2 separate regions of the Homo sapiens genome follow, and region 2 is linked to region 1. Evidence: fine-mapped expression QTL. A gene starts in region 1. The other region holds a variant in brackets. All regions are shown on one strand. Distances are from middle to middle.

The links. PIP is the estimated chance that this variant, and not a neighbour inherited with it, causes the effect.
Region 2: its variant is the best candidate, but not a certain one, in a credible set for the expression of ACTL6B in cerebellum (GTEx, PIP 0.82).

Annotation. Positions count from the first base shown.
Region 1 is chr7:100,654,891-100,657,794 of GRCh38, reverse strand. It overlaps ACTL6B (actin like 6B), which reads left to right and starts at 1,347. Exons shown (of 14, transcript NM_016188.5): 1 at 1,347-1,465; 2 at 1,916-1,992; 3 at 2,209-2,374; 4 at 2,676-2,776. The coding sequence starts at 1,441. LOC105375429 (a long non-coding RNA gene) reads right to left here and starts at 1,234. Exons shown (of 3, transcript NR_133946.1): 1 at 1,105-1,234.
Region 2 is chr7:100,927,257-100,930,160 of GRCh38, reverse strand. It overlaps the pseudogene RPS29P15. Among named protein-coding and RNA genes, the nearest start is that of MUC3A, 21 kb to the left of the region's middle. RefSeq lists enhancers at 766-1,722, 1,723-2,680. The variant T/A (reference allele first, on the strand shown) is at 1,538.

The sequences.
Region 1 (2,904 bases):
AATCCCAGTGACTGAGGAAGCCAAAGTGGGAGGATCACTTGAGGCCAGGAGTTCGAGACCAGACTGGGCAACATAGTTTTTTCTTAAAAAAAAAAAAAAAAAAAAAAAAGCCAGGTGTGGTGGTGTGCACCTGTAAGTCCCAGCTACTCAGGAGGCTGAGGCGAGAGGATCACTTGAACCCAGGAGTTCAAGGTTACAGTGAGCTATAAGTGTGCCACTGCACTCCAGCCTGGGTGACGGAAGACCCTAACTCAAAAAGAAAAGAAACAAAAACCCTCTTGTTGATAAATGCCTCCTCAGGAGAACAGGCGCTGAAGAGAGACAGATGGAGAAAGGAAGCTAAAGCCAGATGGGCTGAATGCCTGTGTGTGAACGTATGTACACATGTGTAAGCATGTGTACACATGTATAAGGCCTAGGTACTGCGGGGGGTGGGGGGGAAAGCAAGGCAAGGAAAAAAGGGGCCAACGAAAGACAAAGGAGGGAAGTTGGACACGGTGGCTCATGCTTTTAATCCCAGCACTTTGGGACTTTGAGGCCAGGAGTTCAAGACCAGCCTGGGCAAGGTAGCAAGACCCAGTCTCTTAAAAAAAAAAAAAAGGTAAAAACAGAGAGAGATGGAGACACACCCCCTTTGGTCCCTCTCTCAATCTTCCCTTCCCTCCCTCTCCCGGTGATTCCATTTAGACCTTGGTGATTCCATTTAGGCCTGGGTGTGGCAGAACCGGGCTCAGAGCAGCCTGAAGATAGATAACCCTTCTGGGAACTGGACCTCTCTCCCCAATCCTGCTTTAAAAAGTAAGGGGGTAGAGGTCGGGCGCAGTGGCTCACGCCTGTAATTCTGGCATTTCGAGAGGCTGAGGTGGGAGGATCGCTTGAGGCCAGGACTTCGAGATCAACCTGGGCAAAAGAGCAAGACCCCGTCTCTATAAAAAATTTTTTTTTAATCCAGGCGTGCTGGCACCTGCCTGTAATCCCAGCTACTTGGGAGGCTGAGGAGGATCGCTTGAGCTCAGGAGTTCGAGACCAGCCTGGGCAACATCACAAGACCTCCGTCTCTACCATAAAAATAAAAATAAAAATAAAAAGCAAGGGGATAGGGACCTCATCAGTCGTCCTGCAGAGTCCTGGTCTCCGCCTCTTCCCTGCTCTCCTCTCTGCCGCCAGTTCCTTAGCGACGGTCTCTAAGTCCCTGCTAGGTGCCCCCTGCCCCATCTCCTCCTGGCCGCTTAATAGAGTGTATCTTCCCCTTTAAAGCAGCTGCCCCCGGTCGGTCATTGTCTCGCCTGGCAGCCAATCGGCGGCGCCGTTGGAGCGGGGGATCCGGCCTCCCAATTGGCCGCTGAGAGTCCCGCCCCGCCAGGGATCCCGGGAGCTGTCCGGCCGCCTCGGTGCTGATCCCGCCACCGCCCACGGGCCGCTAGCAGCGCAGCGGGCACTATGAGCGGGGGCGTCTACGGCGGAGGTGAGCGAGCCTCGGGCCCCCGGCTCCCGCAGCCCTGCGTTCCAAACCCGCGCCATCCATCCGAGCTCTGGGCACCCCGGGGCCTGTCACCTCCGCGCACGAGCGGGTCGAGTCTCAGGCTCGGGTCTCCCGCCACCCCTGCGCTCGGTCCTCCCCAGACGCCCCGCGCGCACAGGGCCCTACCTTGCAACCCACCTCCACCTGGCCCCGGGCCCCTTCCTTTCCCGTCGGGAGGGTGCCCTGAGCAAGGCCATTGGGCAAGAAGGGACCCTGGCGGTGTGATGCCCCCACCCCCAGTCCCAGGACCTCGGACTCCAGGCCCAGCTCCCACCGGCCCCAGACTGGTGTTGAAAGTGGCGAGACTGTGGCTCTGCCCTGACTTTCTCTCGGAGCTACCTAGCGGGAGAGAGTTCGGGGGAGGTCCCCTTACAGGCCTGTCTCCCCGCACAGATGAGGTGGGGGCGCTGGTCTTTGACATTGGCTCCTTCTCAGTCCGCGCTGGGTACGCTGGGGAGGACTGTCCCAAGGTGAGCCTTCCAGTCTCCTCTCCAAATCCTAGGGGCTTCGGACCCTTCTTCAGGCTTTCCAGTGACCCAGGGCTCTCCCAGATCGCCCAGAAGCTCTGCTGAGCGGGAATATGGGAATAAACCCAGGGGCGGTCTGAGGACCCTGCTGTGGGGCTGGACAGGGGCAAGAGGGTGACCTCTCTCCCTGCCAATACTCCCCCAACCCTTCCCCACCAGGCTGACTTCCCCACCACAGTGGGGCTGCTGGCCGCGGAGGAGGGGGGCGGGCTGGAGCTGGAGGGGGACAAAGAGAAGAAAGGGAAGATCTTCCACATCGACACCAATGCCCTGCACGTGCCTCGGGATGGAGCGGAGGTCATGTCGCCCCTCAAGAATGGCATGAGTAAGGGGCCCCCACCCATCACCTCCTGACAGAAAAGGAGCCCGCTCCCCACAATCTGGGTCATAGCAGCCCCCACTCCCCGCGGAGTCTTCCTTGCAGCCCCAGGGTTCTTCTGGCTGCCAGGGTTCTTCTCGCTGGGTTCCCTTCCCAGGGGCCCACCAGGTTTCTGGGAAGGGGGGCGTTCCCCTGGAGCTGGACTCACTGACCCTCCTTTGGGCTTGGCCTTTCTCCCTCCTTTTCTTCCTGTCCCTGTCCCCTGCCTGCCTTCTTGCGTCTCTGCACGCTGCTCTTCTGGCCCCAGTCGAGGACTGGGAGTGCTTCCGAGCCATCCTGGATCACACCTACAGCAAACACGTCAAGTCTGAGCCAAACCTGCACCCAGTGCTCATGTCCGAGGCTCCGGTGAGTGCCTCCTCCATCCTCATGTCCAACCCTGATCTCCACTGCACCTCCTTCCCACCATCCACCTCTCCTCCTCTCCCCTCAAGCCACTGCTCTGAGCCACTTCCCTTCCCTTTTCAGACTCCCCT
Region 2 (2,904 bases), 270 kb before region 1:
GCAGACCCCAAGTTCACTCGCAATCTCTTTTCCACCTCTTGGTGCTCATGAGAAAGATTGGAGGTACAATGAGACAAGAAAGAGGCTCCCTCAGTGGTTCTCAGGCATGAACCCCCTCCTACCTCCCAGAACCTTGTCTCACAAGAAGCAGAAGGACTTAAGCCTCAGGGGAAGGGGCAGGAATCCTTCCCATCCCCTGAGGACAGGCAAAGGTTCACTCCTGGTGGAAGTAAGGGTACAAGTAAGGCCATGTATTTCTGGGGGAGGGATAGGACCAGCCCCTCATTACATGGTGAGGGAGGGTTGAAGCAAAATCTGCCCCCTTGGGAGGGGCAGGAAATCTCCTGGCTAAATCACAAGCTTTGCACCTGTAAACCAAAAAGAAAATTCTAAGCCCCCCAACCTACTGAGCGGACTCCTTCTCGCCAAGGGCATTCCAAAGTAAACCTGCAAAACTAGTTCAGGCCATGATGGGAAGGAGTGTTGGACATGCCTCATTCTGCCCTCATCTCTTTGGAATTCAGGCACAACTGACCAGCATTAACATCAACACAGAGATCTTAAGGCTGACAAAACAGACTCTTTGTAGCAATAAGATACCAAATTCCAACCTGACTGAAGTACAGCATCACATGACAGATAGCAGGTCCTGAAAGAAACAGAAGTATTTTACCCCAAAATAAATTTTTCTTTGACATATTTTGAAACAGCCCTGCAAATCTGTCTCTTGTAGGGAAAATCTACACTGTGTAGAGAGTCCCCTTCCCTTTCCAGGTCTTCTCCTGATTCAGGAGAGATATAACTAAGAGTCTGGCACCTTTTTAAGTCTGATGAGAAACACTTACCATCTATTCTCTCTGAAGCCTGCTACCTGGAGGCTTCATCTGCATAACAAGAACCTTGGTCTTGGCTCATGCCTGTAATCCCAGCACTTTGGGAGGCCGAGGTGGGCAGATCACAAGGTCAGGAGATCCAGACCATCCTGGCTAACATGGAAAAACCCTGTCTCTACTAAAAATACAAAAAATTAGCCAGGTGTGGTGGTGTGCACCTGTAGTCCCAGCTACTCGGGAGGCTGAAGCAGGAGAATCACTTGAACCCGGGAGGTGGAGGTTGCGGTGAACCAAGATTGCGCCACTGTACTCCAGCCTGGGCAACAGAGCGAGACTCTGTCAAAAAAAAACAGGTGGTCTCCACAACCCCTTATCTTTTTAAAAAATGTTTATTTTATGTGCAAAGAGCTATCATGGTTTTTTGGGGTTTTTTTTGTTTGTTTGTTTGTTTTTGACGGAGTCTTGCTCTGTTGCCAGGCTGGAGTGCAGTGGCGCTATCTCAGCTCACTGCAAACTCCACCTCCCGGGTTCAAGTGATTCTCGTGCCTCAGCCTCCTGAGTAGCTGGGATTACAGGCATATGCCACCACGCCCAGCTAATTTTTGTATTTTTAGTAGAGACGAGGTTTCACCATGTTGGCCAGGATGGTCTCGATCTGCTGACCTTGTGATCTGCCCACCTTGGCCTCCCAAAGTGCTGGGATT[T/A]CAGGCGTGAGCCACCGTGCCCGGCCACTATCATGGTTTTTCACTGGGTACATGCGTTGGATAAACCTTTCAAGGAAGGTCAGTTAGTGCAACTTAATGAAACCGATATCTTTCCTGTACTGACGGAAACACTGGCAGTACATATTGAGGGCATATTTACAGATCAGACCATGCCGATTTGGGCCGATGTGACAAGAATGAAAACCCTGGCCGAATATTCACTGGTGGCTCTAGTACAGCTGCTGGTGACCCATCTTGCTCTCAGAAGTGCAACAAGGTAAAAGGCCACAACCTCTTATTTTTAAACCAGACACGCCTTTCTGTTGATTCCAGGTCTTTAGATCATAACTTTACTCTTTCGACCAATTTCCAATCAGAAAATCTTGGAATTTACCTATGATCTGGAAGTCCCCCTGCCCCACACCCCAAATTGTTCCATGATTCCTGAGTGAACAAATGTACACTTTACACGTATTGATTGACGTATGCCTGTAACTTCCATCCCTCTAAAACGTATAAAATTGGCCGCAGGGGCGCACACCTGTAATTCCAGCAATTTGGGAGGCTGAGGTGGGCGGATCACTTGAGGTCAGTTTCACTTGAGTCCGTGTGAAGAGACCACCAGGTTTTGTGTGAGCAATAACGCTTTTAATCACCTGGGTGCAGGCGGGCTGAGTCCGAAAAGAGAGTCAGTGAAGGGAGAGAGGGGTGGTCAGTGAAGAGAGAGTCAGTGAAGGGAGAGCGGGGTTTTATAAGATTTGGGTAGGTAAAGGAAAATTACAGTCCAAGGGGGGTTGTTCTCTGGTGGGCAGGGGTGGGGGTCACAAGGTGCTCAGTGGGGGAGCTTTTGAGCCAGGATGAGCCAGGAAAAGGAATTTCAGAAGGTAATGTTATTAGTTAAGGCAGGAACAGGCCATTTTCACTTCTTTTGTCATTCTTCAGTTACCTCAGGCCATCTGGATTTATACGTGCAGGTCACAGGGGATATGATGGCTTAGCTTGGGCTCAGAGGCCTGATTTTCCTGTCTTCTTATATTAATAAGAAAAATAAAATGAAATGGGGTAAAGTGTTGGGGCGGCGAAAATTTTGGGGGGTGGTATGGAGAGATAATGGGTGATGTTTCTCAGGGCTGCTTCGAGCGGGATTAGGGGCGGCGTGGGAACCTAGAGTGGGAGAGATTAAGCTGAAGGAAGATTTTGTGGTAAGGGGTGATATCGTGGGGTTGCTAGAAGAAACATTTGTCGTGTAGAATTACTGGTGATGGCCTGGATATGGTTTTGTATGAATTGAAAAACTAAATGGAATAAGAGAAGGAGAAAAACAGGTATCAAAGGACTAAGAATTGGGAGGACCTAGGACATCTAAT